3 linked regions of the Homo sapiens genome follow. The protein of the gene in region 1 interacts with the protein of each later gene in a biochemical or structural test. Each region holds a gene or a part of one and is shown on either strand. Other genes may lie near its edges.

Evidence for each region. The genes of interacting proteins can lie anywhere in the genome.
Region 2: the proteins of CTCF (region 1) and CHD7 interact in a test that uses a peptide from one of them, tested with the Homo sapiens proteins (one study listed by BioGRID).
Region 3: the proteins of CTCF (region 1) and RAD51 form a complex in vitro, tested with the Homo sapiens proteins (one study listed by BioGRID).

The regions. Positions count from the first base shown.
Region 1 is NC_000016.10:67,621,526-67,628,525, reverse strand, and holds part of CTCF (transcriptional repressor CTCF), read right to left. Parts: coding exon 6,935-7,000; intron 1,972-6,934; coding exon 1,811-1,971; intron 157-1,810; coding exon 1-156.
Region 2 is NC_000008.11:60,681,718-60,688,753, forward strand, and holds part of CHD7 (chromodomain-helicase-DNA-binding protein 7), read left to right. Parts: intron 1-7,036. UniProt on the Homo sapiens protein: ATP-dependent chromatin-remodeling factor, slides nucleosomes along DNA; nucleosome sliding requires ATP. Probable transcription regulator. May be involved in the in 45S precursor rRNA production.
Region 3 is NC_000015.10:40,705,152-40,712,187, reverse strand, and holds part of RAD51 (DNA repair protein RAD51 homolog 1), read right to left. Parts: intron 6,012-7,036; coding exon 5,894-6,011; intron 3,164-5,893; coding exon 3,072-3,163; intron 1-3,071.

The DNA of each region.
Region 1 (7,000 bases):
AGAACAGACAAAAGCCGCAGGGACGAAGTTGGGGTCGTGATAGCGCTTGAAGTGCATGTCGAGAAGCTGCTTCTGGCGGAAGGTCTTATCGCAGTGGCTGCAGGCGTAAGGCTTCTCCCCGGTGTGGGTGCGCTTGTGCATGATCATGTGCCTCTCCTGAAACGGCATAGGGGGAAAGGCCTCAGAGCCTGCTCATGGGGCTACTGCCCCAGCTGCCACCTGCATGCATGTGGCCAACAGGTATTTCTCACCCAAGCTAGGTCTAGACTCCACACGGCTTGTTGAGATGATAAAGCTATATATTTAGAGACAGGGTCTTGCTCTGTTGCAAAGTCTGGAGAGCAGTGGTGTGATCATGGCTTACTGCAGCTTCAAAATGGGACCATAGGTATGAGCCACCATGCCTGGCTAATTTTTTTTGTTTTTTTTTTGAGACGGAGTCTCGCTCTATCGCCCAGGATGGAGTGCAGTGGCGCGATCTTGGCTCGCTGCAACCTCCACCTCCCGGATTCAAGCAATTCTCCTGCCTCAGCCTCTTGAGTAGCTGCGATTACAGGTGCCTGCCACCACACCCAGCTGACTTTTTTTTTTTTTTTTTTTTTTGAGATGGAGTCTCACTCTGTCGCCCAGGCTGGAGTGCAGTGGCGCAATCTCGGCTCACTGGGTTCATGCCATTCACCTGCCTCAGCCTCCGGAGTAGCTGGGACTACAGGCACCCACCACCACGCCCAGCTGATTTTTTGTACAGACGGGGTTTCACTGTGTTAGCTAGGATGGTCTTGATCTCCTGACCTTGTGATCCACCTGCCTCGGCCTCCCAAAGTGCTGGGATTACAGGCGTGAGCCACCGCGCCCGGCCGACCTTCGTGTTTTTTTGTTTTTTTTTTTTAGTAGAGATGGGATTTCACCAGGTTGGCCAGGCTGGTCTTGAACTCCCAACCTCAAATGATCTGCCTGCCTTGGCTTCCCAAAGTGCTGGGATTACAGGTGTGAGTCACCGTGCCTGGCCCCAGCTAATTTTTTCTTTTTCTTTTGGAGACAGAGTCTCGCTCTGCCACCCAGGCTGGAGCGCAGTGGCGCAATCGCGGCTCAATGCAACCTCCGCCCCAGGTTCAAGCGATTCTCCTGCCTCAGCTTCCAGAGTAGCTGGGATTACAGGCGTCTATCACCATGCCCGGCTAATTTTTGTATTTTTAGTAGAGGCGGGGTTTCACCGTGTTGGCCAGGCTGCTCTCAAGCTCCTGACCTCAAGTGATCCGCCCACCTCAGCCTCCCAAAGTGCTGGGATTACAGGCGCTCGAGCCACCGCGCCCGGCCCTAATTTTTTCTTTTTGTAGAGATGGGGTCTCTCTCTGTTGCCTATCTCGGCCTCCCAAAGTGCTAGGATTACAGGTGTGAGCCACTGCACCCGGCTTGATAAAGGTATTTTTAGTGTGGTGCACAACTGCTTCCATAATTGTAGCACAGATAGAGCTGCTTATTCCTGCTGAGCTCCTTCTTTGGCTCCCTCCCAACAGTCATGTCCCCGCATGAGATTCTTCCCCTCTCTCAAGTCCTGGACTTACTTTCCACAGTTTTCAGAAAGATGTCTGCTTAAGGAAGAGGTAAGCTGTGACTGAATAAAACATCATCTGGACACCGGGATGACACAATTGACAAGGAGCATGACCTTTGATTTTGGTGACATTCCTCATAATCCACAGTTTGAAAATACTATCTTTAAAAACAGCCACTGTACTAGATATGTAAATGCCCTCTGATAACACCAGACACCGAGAAAGCACCAACAACTTTCAATGAAGGTTCCTACCTGTCTACAAGCGTAATCACACTGGTCACACTTAAAGCGCTTCTCATTCTTGTGTGACTTCTGATGCTGGATGAGGGCATAGCGCTCATGAAACACAGCATCACAGTAACGGCATTTCTTGCCTTGCTCAATATAGGAATGCTGCTTTCGCAAGTGGACACCTGAAAGCACAGTAAAAAGCCCAGGGTAATGTGAAAACACAAACAAGCATTTTAACAAGTTACTAATACATTTCTCGATTCTTTTTTTTTTTTTTTTTTTTTGAGACGGAGTCTTGCTCTGTCACCCAGGCTGGAGTGCAGTGGCGCAATCTCAGCTCACTGCAAGCTCCACTTCCCAGGTTCATGCCATTCTCCCGCCTCAGCCTCCTGAGTAGCTGGGACTACAGGCGCCCGCCACCATGCCCGGCTAATTTTTTTATTTTTTATTTTTGTATTTTTAGTAGAGACAGGGTTTCATCATGTTAGCCAGGATGGTCTCAATCTCCTGACCTCGTGATCTGCCCGCCTCGGCCTCCCAAAATGCTGGAATTATAGGTGTGAGCCACTGCGCCCAGCCCATTTCTCCTGATTCTTAAGTATTACTCTGGGTGCTATACAGAAAATGAATGAAAAGGCAGAGTAACAGGTGCAGGGAGAACAATTAAGATTGTTCAAACAGGATAGGTGGGAGAAGATGGTGGCTGGGACAAGGGTGATGACAATGGGTGTGGATGGAAGGGGAAGAACTGATGAGAGATGGAAGCAGTTGAATCAACAGGATTTAGTGACTGTAGAGAGTGAAGAATAAAGTAGGTATCAGGCCTGGAAAACCAGGTAGCTGTTGGGGTCATTTATTGAGACAAGAATAGTGGAAGAGGGCTTAAGACCAAGTTGTATGTGTTATTTTCAGGGTCGGGGGGTGGGGGGGCATAGGGGACAGAGAAGTTTTAGACCTTCAGTTTTAGACATGCTGAATTTGAAATGCCAGAGATATAAAAGCAGGGGTGGGATGGCAAGGGATACACAGTTATATAAGGCTAACTCAAAAGAAAGATCTGGAGTAGGAATATAAATGTACAAGTTGTTAGGATTTGAAAGCAGCTATGCTTATCACTGTACCACCAATGCCACAAAGAGTTGTTAGAATTTGAGCCCATGGGAGCTGATAAGATCACCAAGGCAAAAAGTAGAATTAAAATAAAAAGAATGGGTCATGCTTTGAGAAGTCTAAGAGTTGGCAGGCACAGTGGCTCACGCCTGTAATCCTAGCACTTTGGGAGGCCATGGCAGGTGGATCACCTGAGGTGACGAGTTCAAGACCAGCCTGGCCAACATGGCAAAACTCTGTCTCTACTAAAAAGTACAAAAATTAGCTGGGCGTGGTGGTGTATGCCTGTAAACCTGTAATCCCAGCTACTCGGGAGGCTGAGGCAAGAAAATGGCTTGAACCTGGGGGGCAGAGGTTGCAGTGAGCCAAGATTGTGCTACTGCACTGTACTCTAGCCTGGGCGACAAAGACTCCATCTCAAAAAGAATCCCAGCACTTTAGGAGGCAAAGGTGGGTGGATCACCTGAGGTCAGGAGTTTGAGACCTGGCCTGGCCAACATATAGTGAAACCCGTCTCTACTGAAAAATACAAAAATTAGCTAGGCATGGTGGCGTACACCTGTGGTCCCAGCTACTCGGGAAAATGAGGAAGGAGAATCATTTAAACCAGGGAAGTGGTGGTTGCAGTGAGCCGAGATCGCGCCACTCTACTCCAGCCTGGGTGACAGAGTGAAACTCCGTCTCTCACACAAAGCACACAAGCACACATACACACAAAGAAGTCTCAGAGTTGGGCCAGGTGTGGTGGCTCACACCTGTAATCCTAGCATATTGGGAGGCTGAGGTGGGTGGATTGCTTGAGTCCAGGAGTACGAGACCAGCCTGGGCAACATAGTGAAACCCTGTCTCTACCAAAAGCTAAAAAAAAAAATTAGCTGGTCATCGTGGCATGTGCCTGTGGTCCTAGCTACCAGGGAGGCTGAGGTGGGAGGATTCCTTGAGCCTGGTCGATGCTGCAGTGAGCCAAGACTGAGCCACCGAACTCCAGCCTGGGCAACAGAGCAAGACAGTCTCCAGTAAAAAACAAAAACAAAAACAAAAACCTTGGAGTTAAGGCCAGTGAGAGAAAAAAAGGTTAAAATAAGAGAAAGTTTAAAGAAGTAAGAGGAAGAAGAAAACCAACAGGATTTAGTGTCACAGAGGCCAAGGGAAGAAAGTGTTTCAAAGGAAGAGGGTACTGTCAACGATGAAGAACACTGCTAACAGATCAAGTCATCTCTTAGGAAGAAGAGTGGAAAGGAGTCTTCACTACATTCAGAGAGTGGGGTCATTCATGACCTTAAGCAACAGTCATTATACCAGAGTGATGGGGAATAAGCCAGACAAGAGGGAAAGATGAGGGGGAGAAGACTGTGAGGGATGTTAACTCTTCATAAAGGCTGGCTGGGAAGGAGAGAAGAGTTAAACCTAGAGGGTGAAGACATACATATATATAAAAATACATATATATATGAATACATATATATATACACACATATATACACACACACACATATATATACACACACATACACACACACACACACACACACACACACACACACACACACACACATATATAATTTTTTTTTTTTTTTTTGAGACAGTGTCTCACTCTCTTGCCCAGGCTGGAGTGCCGTGGCGCGATCTCCGCTCACTGCAACCTCCCCCTCCCGGATTGAAGCAATTCTCCTGCCTCAGCCTCCCAAGTACCTGGGACTACAGGCATGTGCCACCACACCCGGCTAATTTTTGTATTTTTAGTAGAGATGGGGTTTCACTGTGTTAGCCAGGATGGTCTTCATCTCCTGACCTTGTGATCCGCCCATCTCAGCCTCCCAAAGTGCTGGGATTAGAGGCGTGAGCCACCGTGCCCGGCTATATTTTTATTTATTTTAAGAGACGGGGTCTTGCTATATCACACAGGTTGGTCTAGAACTCCTGGCCCATCCTCCTGAATAGCTGAAACTACAGGTGTGAGCCACTGTGTCTGGCTAAGATTCTTTTTTTTTTTTGAGATGGGGTCTCTCTGTCACCCAAGCTGGAGTGCAGTGGCACGATCTCGGCTCGTTGCAACCTCTACCTCTTAAGCTCAAGTGATCCTCCCACCACAGCCTCCTGAGTAGCTGGAACCAAGGGTGCACCTCACCACAACCGTTTTGTATTTTTGGTAGAGATGGAGTTTTGCCATGTTGCCCAGGCTGCTCCGGAACTCCTAAGCTCAAATGATCCACCCACCTTGGCCTCCCAAAGTGCTGGGATTACAGGCGTGAGCCACTGCGCCTGGCCCTTTGTCTTTATTTTTTAAGTAGGAAGAGAAGTCATTTACTGAGACCAAGAGGGGAGAGAAAAAAGAAGGAAAATTAGAGGTTATAAGAAAATAGGAGTAGGGGATCTGGTGTAGCAGCTCTCGCCTGTAATCCCAACACTTTGGGAGGCCAATGAGGGCAGATCACTTGAGGTCAGGAGTTCGAGAGCAGCCTGGCCAACATGGTGAAACCCTGTCTCTACTAAAAATACAAAAATTAGCCATGGGCGGGCACCTGTAGTCCCAGCCACTTGGGAGGCTGAGGCAGGAGAAGAGCTTGAACCCAGGAGGCGGAGGTTGCAGTGAACAGAGATCAGGCCACTGCACTCTGGCCTGGGTGACAAGTGCAAAACTTTGTCACAAAAAAAAGCAAGTGAGGGCTGGGCGCGGTGGCTCATGTCTGTAATCCCAGCACTTTGGGAGGCCGAGGTAGGCAGATCACCTGAGGTCAGGAGTTCAAGACCAGCCTGGCCAACATGGTGAAACCCCATCTCTACTAAAAAATACAAAAAAAAAAAAAAAAAAAAATTTAGCCGGGCATGGTGGTATGCGCCTATAATCTCAGCTACTCAGGAGGCTGAGGCAGGAGAATCACTTGAACCTGGGAGGCACAGGTGGCAGTGAGCTGAGTTCATGCCATCATACTCCAGCCTGGGTGACGAGAGGAAAACTCCATCTCAAAAAAAAAAAAAAAAAAAGTAAGAGTAGGTTGCCCAACTCTATATAAGCACCAAACACTGTGGAATGAATTCGCTCACTCATAAAGAACTGGAGCACACCTGACAAGAACAAACAGCTGGAACAGCTAGGAGCAGTGAGGGCCCAGCTACATTTGGGATCATGAATTTATGTATTTACGGTACTACAAGTTGTATCAACTGAGGTGATATCCCACTAAACTTAAAGAGAGCTAATTATTGGGAGTAGATATGAGGTAAGGGAGAGGATGGCTCTCACTTTTTACTCGTTACCTTTTTTTTTTTTGAGACAGAGTCGCGCTCTGTCACCCAGGCTGGAGTGCGGTGGCGTGATCTCTGCTCACTGCAAGCTCCACCTCCCAGGTTCACGCCATTCTCCTGCCTCAGCCTCCCGAGTAGCTGGGACTACAGGCGCCCACCACCATGCCCAGTTAATTTTTTGTATTTTTAGTAGAGACAGGGTTTCACCATGTTAGCCAGAATGGTCTCGATCGCCTGACCTCGTGATCCACCCGCGTTGGCCTCCCAAAGTGCTGGGATTACAGGTGTGAGCTGCCGCGCCCGGCCTACACTAAATATTATTAATAAACTCCGGCTGCATGTAAACTCTAGTTTAACTATGCACAGAAATACAGTTACCACTAAACCAATAAAACAGTCCCATTACCTAGAGAAAGTACAGACGTTCTCAAAAAAATACAATAGAATGACCTGAGTTTGAATCACACTATGTTACTTTCCTATTTGGGGAAGGAAGGCTACTAATTAAAGGTGTACTCTGTCTCCTCCCATCACAGCTCCCATTAATTTATAGATGAGTTTTACTCAGGACAGAATCTTGTGGCCTGACTACAGTAAGAAAAGGAAGAAATAGAAAAAAAAAAAAAAAAAAAGCAGCTAAGCAATGGCTTTTACTAAACTAAGTGACAGGCCATTCCTATACATAAAATGTTATGAGAGTCAGAAGGTGAAGTTATTTTTGATCCCCATATTTCGAAATATAAATCCTTCAAAATATTTTTTTCACTTCTCACTAGTTAATCTACTTACCCAAATCACTTTTTCGGGCTATGACTGTGTCACAGTGGGGACAGTGAAATTTGGCCACATTTTCTG
Region 2 (7,036 bases), on another chromosome or scaffold:
GGTGAATTTCCTCATGCTGGTACTCAAGAATTGGGATTGTTTTCTAGCACTGTGGGTTTTTTTCTCTTTATATTTTCTAATTTTTTCTCCTGTTCGAGTCACTAAATTGAACCATGATGAATTGTATCCTGGGTCTATGCTTTCGCGATTGAAATGAGTTTTCAGATAAGAAATGAATTATAATTTTAAAAGACTGGTATATGAATTTTAAATTATTATATTCATTTAATCAATGGCCTTATTTTTAAATTAGTTTTTTTAAAAAGTTACTTTCTTTTATATGTCTTAACATGGAAGGCACAATACAGGAATGGTAGAGTGGTTGTACCGGTGATGTTTAAAAACCCAAATATTATTTTCCTCTTTCAAGGAAAGAAATAACTTTTTTTCCCAAGTTGAAAATATGGAAGTCAAATTTATAACAACGTATTCAGTAACTTAGTTTTAAAATAGTACTTTTATAGATTCACCAGTATTTGGTCTAGTTTTTAATCAGTTCAACTTACAGGAACATTTCCTAAACTTTTTTCATAATGAGCCTTCTTTCTAGGTTAGCCTTACTTTTATTGAGTTAAAATGAATACCATGAAGAGTACCTTTATAATACAGTAACATCAAGGAAATGTTACAACCGTTTTTCATACAGATGCGAAGTCAATAATATGTTATAGTTTTTAAGCAGTTAGGTCAAAATAACAGAAATATTTTGTTATGAGAAAATACACTGTAAATGCTTCTGTGTGCCTGCTGTGTAACCCATAAAAGCCATGTAAGTGCCAAGTTAGTGTAGTTCTTTCAAACCTAAGATTACAGCATTGTATTCCATATGCTTGAAAAAGTTTGCTTGCCACACAGTCACCATGCCTTTAGTTAACTTTGATTCAGCAAACCTTGGCAAGCCTTCCATGGTTAAAACAATAAAAGGCAGTACTTTCCTTTAGGGAGTGTACCATCTAATAGAGAGCAGTTCTATAGGTAAGCAAATATTCACATTTGACTTTTAAGATAAACTTATAAGTAATAGTTATCTTTCATCTTTCATTAACTAAATACAACCTTTTGGGTTTGATAGCAGACACCATGGCCATCTTAGAAACATCGAATATAAATGTGGCATTGCAAGAATAAAAATGTTTAGTCAGGTCTGAGCAAATGGCTCTTAAAACTTCAACTTTGTAAGACAGTGATTCTTTTTCAGTAAATGATTTCTACATGTAAAAAGTAAGCACATAGTCACATAGCTAAAATCACCAAAAAGGATGGAGAAGGAACATCTTAGGTGATATTAAGATGATGTCAGCAATATATTGGCTCTGTGGGACCCTTTCAATTGTCTTGTTCACTCATGTGGGCATATTTGTGTATCTTAAAAAAATCTGTTCTTTTCATGCGATTGGAAATTCAGAATTTAGCATTTTTCTAGACAGGTTTCCAAAACCATTATGGTTTCATTAGTTCAGGAGATACTATTTTCCCCTTTCTCTATAAAACTTTATTATTTAGTCTTTAAAAAAATTGTTGACATTCAAAGGTGACTAATGTTAAAATATAAAAGAAATTGAGATCAATAATCGCTTGGTTTTTCTACAAAAAATACAAAGATGGAATGATTTATTTCAATTTGGGTATCACTCAGGTTGCAGTGATGGCAGAGGTCCATAGCTGATTATGGTGGTTGTTAAGAGCTAGGAAGGTAATTTAAAACATCATGACTATGTGTCCATATTTTACTTTTGTCAATAGATTAAAAATTGTAAATGAAATCACATCTGCATGATAAAAAGAAGAAATAGAAACAGGAAGTTGTAATGATGTTGTCAAATAAAAATTCATTTTATCCTTATTAGAGAATGATTGGATATTTAGAGTGTGAGGACCTTAGAGAGCTAGTTGAACTTTCTCATTTTACAGATTAAGAAACTAAAGTCCAGAGAGATTAATTAAATGAACTGCCTCTGACTGGCCACCCACTGTTGCAGAGCTTATCTCAGTTACAGTTGTGTTCCTGGTGCCTAGCATCGTGCCAGTGCAGGAGGGGTGCTGGTCTTGTCTTTGTTGGCTCTGGAAGAGTACAGCTCTTGCTCATGTTCTGACTCAAAGGTACCTTTAGGCTTTAGAATCCTACAGCATAGGACAACATAACTCTTAAAGATGTTCCTAAACCAACAATAATTTGCTTCTGTTTTTGGAGGTTTTTTTTTTTTAACTATGATTATCCATTTAGGAAAAATGCAGAGATAATTATTTCAAGATTTGACAACTGTTTTCACTTTAGATGCATGTATTGATCACCATAGCTAGATTCCTGTTGCATTTTAACTAATGTTAGGTGACTGACTGCAAACATGATTGTTTTTTCAGAGAAGGATTTTTTTGGGGTTTCTGTTCTGCTTTTACTTTGAAAATTAGAAATGTCTTTTTAAAAGTAAAAAATAACGTAGGTATTTATGAAGAAACTTAACTTGTCAGTAAAGGCTGGTTCACTCTCAGGCTTGTTTACCTATGCTAATGTGGAATCTAAGGCACTTTTTAAAGTGACCCTTTGAGCCTTGCTTCCTCTGTGCATGTCAGGATTGGCTTTCACGGCCACAGAATCTGGACTGTGATTAGTCTTCCTGTTTCATCTGTGGTTTTGCTCATTGATTCGGCTGTTTGTTGGGTACCTGCTACCTGAAAGATGCAATGCTATGAATTGTCAATATAGTGATGACATGAGAAGACATGGTAAACTCACACAAAAACTAGAGCTACTGTAAGGTCATAGGTGTGATGCAGTCGGTGCCAGGAGGAGTGAGAGCTTAGGACTTGGGGATTCCGTCAGTTGGGTGGGGTATTACCCCTTAGGAAGTGGCTTTAGCATTACCATCTGAATGATGGTAGAAGAAGGGGTGAGGGCACTTCAGGCAGTGCCCCTCACCTGCAGGGAGGCTGTGTGTTTGAGGCATTCAACTGCAAGATGAGACTCGAGGCAGGCAGTATCCAACTTGGTCAGGGCTTTCAGGATATCAAATTTGGGATTTTTGAAAAAAGCAGTAGGAACCACTGATGAGTGTTAAGCAGCCTTTGACACGAGCAGAGTAGTGTTTTGAAGAAGATTGAATTGGTGGGTGCAGAGAGGACAATAGGTTGTAGACAATATCCTGCCTGCTTTTGTTGTGGTCTGTGGGATGGGGAAATCACAATGATTTGGACTAGATTGGTGGTGGCCATGGGGATGGAGAGAAATGGACAGATTTGAGAGATATTTAACAGTTTCAACGAATAGGACTTGGGGATAGATGCGCTCTCAAGAGGGAGATCTCAGGGCATATAGGTTTCTAGCATGTTCCCTGCTTGGCTGGTTGGCTACTGATCCTATTCACAGAGGCAAGAATCAGATCTGCTGAAGATTTGAGAAGGAAGCTCATGAGTTCTTGTAGCATATGACTGAGGTAGCTGATAATGGACCATGATGACATTGTTTTATCCTTTGCATTGCTAGTGGCATTCCAGAACTTTAAAAAAAGTAATCTGCTAGCTTTAACCAAAAGATATTGGACGTGGGGAGTTCATCAAGGAATGTGAATGGGTTCAGTGAAATGGGAGAGGGGAGGGAAGCCTTACTTGCTGAATACATAGCACTTTGCTTGTTACTTGCCTGATACATAGCACTTTGTAGGAGTTTGCTCATTCCAGGTTGAGCGTAGAATCCTGTGGTAACCAGACCTTGGCACATTTTGTTCTTCTGTATGTCCCCTTACGGAGGCTGCTTTCTGTTGCTAGTCACATATTAGGGCAAGGTCTTTGGGTTCCCGGCACGTGGGTGGCAGGTCCCCCATGTTCTCGGGGCTGCAGTCTCCCTCGGAGAGAGTTGTATTTTAGAAGTTGGTTGTAGTCATACAGAAGCAAGGAAGGAGTGAATACATTATTTAAATAAATGTGGAGAAGAATACCAATGTTTATCAGAATACTTACCTGGTTTTTAGTGGAGTATGTATAAACCAGTTTAATAAGTAAATTACCTTCAAAGTTACTTTGTTCAGTTATTATGAAAAGTAGATTGTAAAGCATGGTTGCCGGTGGCAGATGAGCGATGCTGTTACACCCAGAAAAGCTTCTGAATTGCTGACTTTAATATTATATAAGAAAAATTATGAAAATACAGGACAGTAATTTTGGAGCTTTTTTAGGGAAGTGTTTGTATTTTTGTGTTTGCCAGCTAATATGGGTGATTGCCAGCCAATATGGGTGATAGAACTTTTTGTTATAGATCAAATTTTGTTCTTGTGTGCATAAAGATAACCTTCCTGGGACTCAGTGTCTTTAATTAGGGGTCTGTTTCAAAGATACTTTTATTGTCATTGTGTGTTCCTCATGGGCCTTTCTGGTGGCCATTGTGACTCAGTCAAGTCTTCTGGGTTCCTTCCTGTCTTGTGTTGTTTGTAGGGACATGCTTCATGTGAAAGTTTACCTTCACCTGCAATAGTTTTGAGTGATTATTTGAATAAGCTTAAATTCAGGAGAAGTAATGTTTCCACGTGTGGAATGGCAGGAAAACTTGGTGCACTAACTTCAGCTTCAGATGGGCTTGTGCCAACTACTCTGTGGCAATTTATATCTAATACTATTTCTTCAACTTGCCAGTTTTTCTTAAAAAAAAAAAAAAAAAACTCTTTAAAATACATTCTGTCATTAGGTCCAGCCAGCAGTGTATTCTTAGGGTGTAAGAGATCATTTCTAAGAGGTGTAGACATCGAATGGAAAGGCGCATGCAGGCCCCTGTGGATGTGGCTTTAATGGAAGAATAGAGGGGATGCTTCTTTGGGGCCTGCCTTCTCTCCTGGCATCTGCAGTGGCTGAGGAGGCAGCAGAGGTCATGTGGTGGATTTGAGTTTTCCACCATGTATTTCATCAGGATGAGGTTGGGCAAATAGCCATCTGCTGCTGAGCAGGGACCGCGTGCGACCTGGGTTTCCACACCCACCCTTTGTGTAGGGAAAGGTGTGCAATTAGACACATGTGTTAGGTTGGACACATCACCTCCTTTCCCTAGTATCCTCAGTGTAAAACAGTCAGATTTCTATACCATATTTGCAGTATGTCTAAAAAAGGGTACATGGCACCTTACTAGTTAATTTTCTTTCTAGTTCTGCAGCAAGTTTGGGGAACTACTTTAACTTTTTAGAGGCCACTGTGTCCTCTTTTCATCATTTTGAAAGAAACCACAAACATTTTATTTGTTATCCATTTTTGTTTTGTTTCGTTTTCGAGATGGGGTCTCACAATACTGTCCAGGCTGGATTCTAATTCCTGAGCTCAAAGGCTTTTCCTGCCTCAGCCTCCCAAGTAGCTGGGATTACTGGCATGCACCACTGTGCCCTGTTATATCAACATTTTAGAAATCTGTCTGTTGATATTTAAAACATAATTAGCAAATGTGCATATTATTTCAACACACCTAAAAACTATTAAACATCTTTAACATAATACTAAGCAGTCATAGTGAGAAGTCCCTCGAAGAATTATAAGCATGCCTTTAGTTTCCAAGGCAGTGCTTGCTAGCATACTAAGTGAATAATAAAATCAGTTTGAGCACAGGAATATGATAAAAAAAAAATACCCCAGTTGGTGAAGTATTTTGAAGTGTATGAGCCTAGCAATTATTTATGGTTAGAACTGGCACTATATTGAAATTGTTGAGCCCATATCCTTAAATAATTTTTTAAAAGTCTCTGTTAAAGTGTTTTATGTTCTTGTATACTTGGCCTTGTTTGTGCTTGAAATTTTGCTTTCATTAATCTCAAGTGTACCGATCTTGCAAGAAAAATCATACATATTCATCTTGAGAATTTCAAAATCTTGATTAACAGTGTACCCCACCCTGAAGTATATGTTGGGCCAATCAAGTAAAATAGTGCAGAAATAATAAAACAATATTAAAAATAACAGTAATAACCATAATGACCGGCTGTTATTTCCAGTTGGGTAGTTACTCAGCTGAGTGTTGTCATGGATCATTTCATTTCCTCATCAGAGCAACTCTAGGTAATAGGTAGAACTATTATCCCCATTTTACAGATGAGGAGACTAAAAGGGATGAGAAGTTAAATTACCCAGGGCCATACATTTCTAGCACGTGGTGGAGGAGGAATTTGAATCCAGATGAGCTAGACTCCACAATCTGTGTACATAAGCATGGTGCTGCTGTTGCCACGTAGACCAGCTCTGGAGCTTGCATTGTTGCCGTCTTAATAGACAAAGGTGTGTTAAAAATACCCATGCCATGCTGTGATGCTACCTATTGCTGTGTCTTACCAGCCCAGGCTATTTTTTTCTGTACTTCCTCTGTTGGTGCCTGCTGTAGTTGTGGGGCCATATGTCATGGGATGTCTTCGTACCTAAAACGACCAGGTCCTTGCCTTTCACACTTAAGGCCCTTCTGCTCACATGGAGATGAGGAGAAGAGTTGTTCTTGTGGAGGTTGCCTTCTGAGGCGGCTGAGAATTTGAGTTTTGATGTCGGACAGATACGGGTGTGAATCATAAAAATGGACATAATACATTCTCCTAACTGCCCAGGGTTATGGTGAAGGTTAAGTGAGGCACTCCAGCTAACATACTTGGTATAGCATATGGCATATTCATTGAGTGGTTACTATTTTTATTAGTTCAGTTTAATCATGGAACTTATCAAATCATATGTATTGCTTTTACTTTTGTTTTAAAAAGTCCCTCAAACCATAATCCTACAGATGACTGGACAAGAATGAGTGGCCTAAAATGGTGACTGGCTACACAATTTTCATTTTTCTTCAGGAGAAGACATTTGAAAATAACATCTTTATGTCCTTTGTCCATCAGTGCAACCAGATGTTATTTGCCTAATTCTCTTGTTGATTATATAGAGTTGATTCAGATATCCCAGGTACTAAAAGTGACAGGTTTGAGGGAGTGCTTATCTCTTGTCCTGAAGATGTTCATCTCCTACCAGAGTTATGGCTGTCCTTCTAGTGAAACAGTCATTTCTTCTTTGTCCCAAATCTGCAATTCTCCAAACA
Region 3 (7,036 bases), on another chromosome or scaffold:
CTTTATTGTCACTATCTTAGTTTCCTGACCAGCTAATGCTTACTCTTCATAAAATCAAGTTTAAACTTCTTAACCTTCTGAAATAGGATCTTAATTTTTTTTTTTTTTTTGAGATGGAGACAAAATCTTGCTCTGTTGCCCAGGCTGGAGAGCAGTGGTACAATCTTGGCTCATGGCAACCTTGGCCTCCTGGGCTCAAGCGATTCTCCCGCCTCCACCTCCCAAGTAGCTGCCACTACAGGCACAGCCCACGTCTGGCTAATTTTTATATTATTTGTAGAGATAGGGTCTTGCCATGTTGCCCAGGCTGGTCTCAAACTCCTGAGCTCAAGCGATCCACCCACCGTGGCCTCCCAAAGTGCTGGGATTACAGGTGTGAGCTATCATGCCCAGTTTGATGTATCTTTTTAAGGGTCATCTCCTACAACTTTTCTACACAAACTCTAAACCAGTTAAATGACCTTGCTTATTTATTGTCTTTTCCTTCTAACTTATGCCTTCCCATCCTCTGTTCATCCCATTCTATACAGTTAAATGCTTTTAATTTCCTTCCTTCCCAAATTTAGCATTCTTCAGAAGTCTGGTCCAAAATCTTTTCTCCATAAAGTATTCCATGATCACTCTAGGGTGAAATTACCCCTTTCTATTCCTTAAACAGCTAACCCATTTCCTCTGTGACATTCATTTTATATATCAGGCATGTTTTTGGACATCTATTATCTCCACTCATTCAAGCATTTATTGTTTACTGAGAGCCAAACACTGCCTTAGGCACTAGCAATACAGCAGAAAACATGCAGTGGCACGATCCCAGTCACTGGAGCCTCGACCTCTTGGGCTCAAGAGATTCTACCACCTCAGCCTCCTGAGTAGCTAGGACCACAGGTACACATCATCATGCTGGGCTAATATTTTTAATTGTCTGTTTTTGTTTGTTTGTTTTTAGAAATGGCATCTCAGAAACAGGGTCTCACTATGTTGCCCAGGCTGGTCTCAAATTCCTGGTCTCAAGCAATCCTCCCACTTTGGCTTCCCAAAGTACTGGGATTACAGGCATGAAACACCATGCTGGCCTCTTATGAAGTTTTAAGAACATCATCTCTGAAGTCTGGTTTGAGTCCAGTATTTGCTACTTAAATACAATGTATTGGGCAATTATTTAACCTACTGTGTCTATTTCCAAATCTTCCCACCAATAGGAGCATAAGTAAAGGAAAAAGAAACTGAAGGGGTCCAGGGAAGGTTTTTTCCTAATGGAGGAGACACTAGACATATTTGTATACTGATGAGGATAATCTCATAGAGAGGTACAAGAGAAAATGGAAGGAGTAGAGTCCTTGAGAAGGTGGCAGGAGATGGTAACCAAATCATATTGATAGAATGGGCCTTTGAGAAGAAAAGGGACACTTTCTCAATTGTAACCTGAGATAAGAAAAGATGGGCACAAATGTAGATTTGATGCAAAGAGCAGGTTAGGTTTTTGGCTAAGAATGAGAGTTGAAGAGGAGCATAAAGTTCTGATAACAGAAGACGAAGTATGAGATATGAGATGCCTGTCTAACTCAGTGGGAAAGTACACCTAAATGGAGAAAGTAGACTGCCAAGAAGTTTTGAATGTTAATCTAAAGTTTTGTCATCTTGAATTTTTTTCCTTTTTTCATTCTTTTTTTTTTTTTTTTTTTTTTTGAGACAGAGTCTCGCTTCTTTGACCAGGCTGGAATGCAATGGTGCGATCTCAGCTCCCTGCAACCTCTGCCCCCCGGGTTCAAGCGATTCTCCTGCCTCAGTCTCCCAAGTAACTGGGATTACAGGCACGTGCCAACACGCCCAGCTAATTTTTGTATTTTTAGTAGAGACAGGGTTTCACCATGTTGGCCAGGCTGGTCTTGAACTCCTGATCTTTTTTTTTTCTTCTTCTTTTTTTTTTTTTTTTTTTTTTTTTTTTTGAGACAGAGTCTCGCTCTGTCGCCCAGGCTGGAGTGCAGTGGCGCAATCTCGGCTCACTGCAAGCTGTGCCTCCCGGGTTCACGCCATTCTCCTGCCTCAGCCTCCCAAGTAGCTGGGACTACAGGCACCCGCCACCACGCCCAACTAATTTTTTGTATTTTTAGTAGAGATGGGGTTTCACTGTGTTAGCCAGGATGGTCTCAATCTCCTGACCTTGTGATCCGCCCACCTCGGCCTCCCAAAGTGCTGGGATTACAGGCGTGAGTCACCGCGCCCAGCCAAACTCTTGATCTCAAGTGATCCACCCGCCTCGGCCTCCCAAAGTACTGGGATTACAGGCGTGAGCCACCGTGCCTGGCCTGTCATCTTGAATTTAAAGTGAAGTCAGTCAGCTGTATGATACGATTTTTCTCCAGTATAATCAGCTATTTGGGTACAGACACTGAGAAGATAGATGAGTTTCATCTAAGGTTGGCATCTCTTCAAGTGGGTATGTAAACTGAGGCTATCTGCAAGAGAATTACTTTAATGATGAATCATAAAATCTAGACTAATGAAGAAGATGGAGGGCTGGGCGCAGTGGCTTACGCCTATAATTCCAGCACTTGGGAGGCCAAGGTGGGTGGATCACTTGAGATCAGGAGTTCAAGAGGAGCCTGGCCAACATGGTGAAACCCCCTCTCTACTAAAAACACAAAAATTAGCCGGGCATGCTGGTGGGCGCCTGTAATCCCAGGTACTCGGGAGGTTGATGAAGGAGAATCACTTGAACCAGAGAGGAGGTTGCAGTGAGCTGAGATCACACCACTGTACTTCAGCCTGGGCGACACAGCGAGATTCTGCCTCAAAAAAAAAAAAAAAAAAAAAAAGTAGCAAGTAAAGCCAGGAAAAGGCCTGGTAGCAAAAGTATTTGAAATTAACGTATCTGATAGGAGATCAATGATTTGGAAGTTTCTATGACATGGAAGGATTTTGAAGTAGGAGTCTATCTTCTAACTATTAACAGCTATAAGATTCTTGAGGACAGAGAAAGTACCTTTTATGGCCATCCTAACAGATGCTTGCAAATAGCAGGAATGAAGTAATGCTTGCTTATTTGATTAGCTATAGCCCCAACAGCTCACCTGGCAGGTGACAGCTAGCGTATGACAGATCTGGGTCTTCCCAGTTCGGAATTCTCCAAACATTTCTGTGATAGATCCAGTCTCAATTCCACCTAAAAAAGCGATAAGAAATAACTCTTAGCATAATACAAACATGTAGAAACTGTAGTCATAGAAATGTTCTTGGAGCTCATCAGAAAGATGTTTATGTAAGTTAAAAATTCAATTTCCAACAAGCGATAATTTTTCACAAATGTATTTTGAGGCTAGCCGTGGTGGCTCATGCCTGTAATCCCAGCACTTTAGGAAGCTTAGGTGGGTGGATTGCTTGAGTTCAGGAGTTCGAGACCAGCCTGGGCAACATGGTGAAGCCCTGTCTCTACAAAAATTAGCCGGGCATGGTGGCGGATGCCTGTAGTACCAGCTACTCAGGAGCTAAGGTGAGAGGATCACTTGAGCCTGGGAGGCAGAAGTTGCAGTGAGCCAAAATCGTGCCAGTGCACTCTAGCCTGGGTGACACAGTGAGACCCTGTTTCAAAACAAACAAACAAACAAACAAATAAACCAAAAGTATTTTGAAATAATTAGATTTATAGATAGCTGCAAATAAGGCCAGGTGCGGTGGCTCACACCTGTAATCCCAGCACTTTAGGGGGCCGAGGCGGGCTGATCACCTGAGGTCAGGAGCTCGAGACCAGCCTGGCCAACATGGTGAAACCTCATGTCTACTAAAAATACAAAACTTAGCTGGAACTGGTGATGGGCACCTGTAATCCCAGCTACTAGCAGGCTGAAGCAGGAGAATCACTTGAACCTGGGAGGCGGAGGCTGCAGCAAGCCGAGATCACGCCACTGCACTCCAGCCTGGGTGACAAAGTGAGACTCCTCAAAAAAAAAAAAAAAAAAGCTGGGCACAATATGGTGAAACCCTGTCTCTACTAAAAATACAAAAATTAGCTGGGCATGGTGGTGCATGCCTGTAGTCCCAGCTACTCGGGAGGCGGAGGCAGAAGAATAGCTTGAACCTGGGGGCGGAAGTGGCAGTGAGCCAAGATCATGCCACTGCACTCCAGCCGGGGTGACATAGCAAGACCCCATCTCAAAAAAAAAAAAAAAAAAAAAAGCTGGGCACAGTGGCTCATGCCTGTAATCCCAGCACTTTGGGAGGCCGAGGTGGATGGATCAGGAGGTCAGGACTTTGAGACCAGCCTGGCCAAGACGGTGAAATCCCGTCTCTACTAAAAATACAAAAATTAGCCAGGCACGGTGGCGGGTGCCTGTCATTGCAGCTACTCAGGAGACTGAGGCAGGAGAACTGCTCAAACCTGGGAGTCAGTGGTTGCAATGAGCCGAGATTGTGCCACTGCATTCTAGCCTGGGCAACAGAGCAAGACTCTGTCTTTAAAAAACAAACAAACAAACCAACAACAACAAAAAAAAACATACGAAATTTCTATGCACCTAGCCTTCTGCAGTGTTAACCTCTTGCATAATGATAGTATAGCACTGATATTAGAAAACTGACATTGGGGGCCAGGCATGATGGCTCACGCCTGTAAGCCCAGCACTTTGGGAGGCTGAGGCGGGTAGATCATCTGAGGTCAGGAGTTCGAGACCAACCTAGCCAACGTGGTGAAACCTCATCTCTACTAAAAATACAAAAATTAGCTGGGCATGGTGGCACTTGCCTGTAGTCCCAGCTACTTGGGAGGCTGAGGCAGGAGAATCACTTGAACCCAGGAGGCGGAGGTTGCAGTGAGCTGAGATTATGCCACTGCACTCCAGCCTGGGTAACAGAGTGAGACTCTGTCTCAAAAAAAAGGGAAAGAAAACTGACATTGGGCCAGGCAAGGTGGCTCAAGCCTATAATCCCAGCACTTTGGGAGGCTGAGGCAGGAGGATGGCTTGAGCTCAGGATTTTGAGACCAGCCTGGGCAACATAATGAGTGATGCCCCGACTCAAAAAAAAAAAAAAAAAAAAAAAAAATTAGCCAGGTGGTAAATGATCATAGTCCTAGCTTGGGGAGACTGAGGCTAGAAGATCACTTGAGCCCAGGAAGCAGAGGTTGCAGTGAGCTGAGACCATGCCACTGCACTCCAGCCTGGGTGACAGAGTGAGACCCTGTCTCGAAAAATAAATAATAAGGTCAAAAGCTTTATAGTTTTCCCTGAAGTCCTGAAGATTAGTGTGTACACAATGAGTAGTATTCAAACATGGAATGTTTTAACCAGTCATCAGGTTTTCAACCCTGTGGTAGAGTAGGTTATAATTACAGTTACCTCCTTAAGCAAAAGGAGCTTACTCTCTTAACACAATATTAAATGGAGACTAAATTATTTAATTTGCAGATAAGTTTAGTATTTTATAAATAAGGTCCTACCTTGCAGCAGTCTTACCTCTTCAATGTGGATACTTCCTTTATCTCTCTTTGTTTTTGAGACAGAGTTTTGCTCGTCACCCAGGCTGGAGTGCAGTGGCACAATCTTGGCTCACAGCAACCTCCGTCTTCCGGGTTCAAGTGATTCTCCTGCCTCTGCCTCCCGAGTAGGCATGTGCACCTACAGGGATTACAGGCATGTGCCACCATGCCCAACTAATTTTGTATTTTTAATAGGTTTCTCCATGTTGGCTGGGCTGGTCTCGAACTCCCAGCCTCAGGTGATCTGCCCACCTCAGCCTCCCAAAGTGCTGAGATTACAGGCATAAGCCACTGCACCTGGCCTTCCTCTATCTCTTTATCATTATCTAACAAGGAAATGCTACACAAATATTTCAGTTTTGTTTTATAACCTGGAAGCTTTCCTAACTAGAGTTCACAACACAGGATAAAGGATTACTACACCTTGAAGTAGTTTGTCAAGCTCTTTGGAGCCAGTAGTAATCTGTATGATCTCTGACCGCCTTTGGTGGAATTCAGTTGCAGTGGTGAAACCCATTGGAACTAATTTAGCTGCCTCAGCCTGGGAAAAATAAGAAATATTAAATCAACAAAATAATATTCCTTACCACAGTGATCTTGATGGCAAAAAAATATATATAAAGAAAAAAGAAATATTAGTAAAACAAGGTGTGCAATGGGAAGAGAAAATATCAAATAAAATTACCAGGATGATTTCTCTTTAGAAAGTCATAAAAAAGGATAATCTAATTCAGAGATTCCATGAAGATCAATTTTTAAATTGCCAATTCAAGTTAATATATTAATATAGTTTTAAAAACTATTATAGATCCGGCCGGGTGCGATGGCTCACGCCTGTAATCCCAGCACTTTGGAAGGCCAAGGCAGGCGGATCACAACGTCAGGAGATCGAGACCATCCTGGCTAACATGGTGAAACCCCATCTCTACTAAAAAAATACAAAAAATTAGTCGGGCGTGGTGGCGGGTGCCTGAAGTCCCAGCTACTTGGTAGGCTGAGGCAGGAGAAAGGCGTGAACCCGGGAGGCGGAGCTTGCAGTGAGCCGAGATCGCGCCACTGTACTCCAGCCTGGGGGACAGAGCGAGACTCTGTCTCAAAAAACAAAACAAAACAAAACAAAAAACTATTAGAGATCCGTACATATGTGTTTTGCCCAATTTATGACAAAAATGACAATACAGTACACCTTCATTTCCTGCTCCATCAACCGCAGACTGTATCCCTTAACTTCCTACTTTGTAAAAATGAGGACATTTGCCCTTCAATCTTTTCTCTCTCCATGGCTACTTCCCCACCTCTATCAGCTGTACCTTTTCTTTCATATTGTCTGGCTGAGAACATTCACATTCTATTTTGTAATTACAGATAAGTGTTCTGTAATAGCACTATGGGTTGATTCTAAAATTGAAAAGTAAGTGCATTCACAAATATGCAAAAATAAAGCAACACACTCCTAAATAAGCAACAAGTCAAAGAAGAAATGACAAGGGAAATCAGAAAATGTTTTTGCAATGAATGAAAACGAAGATATACCAAAACGTATGGGCTCCAAGAAAAGCAGTGCTT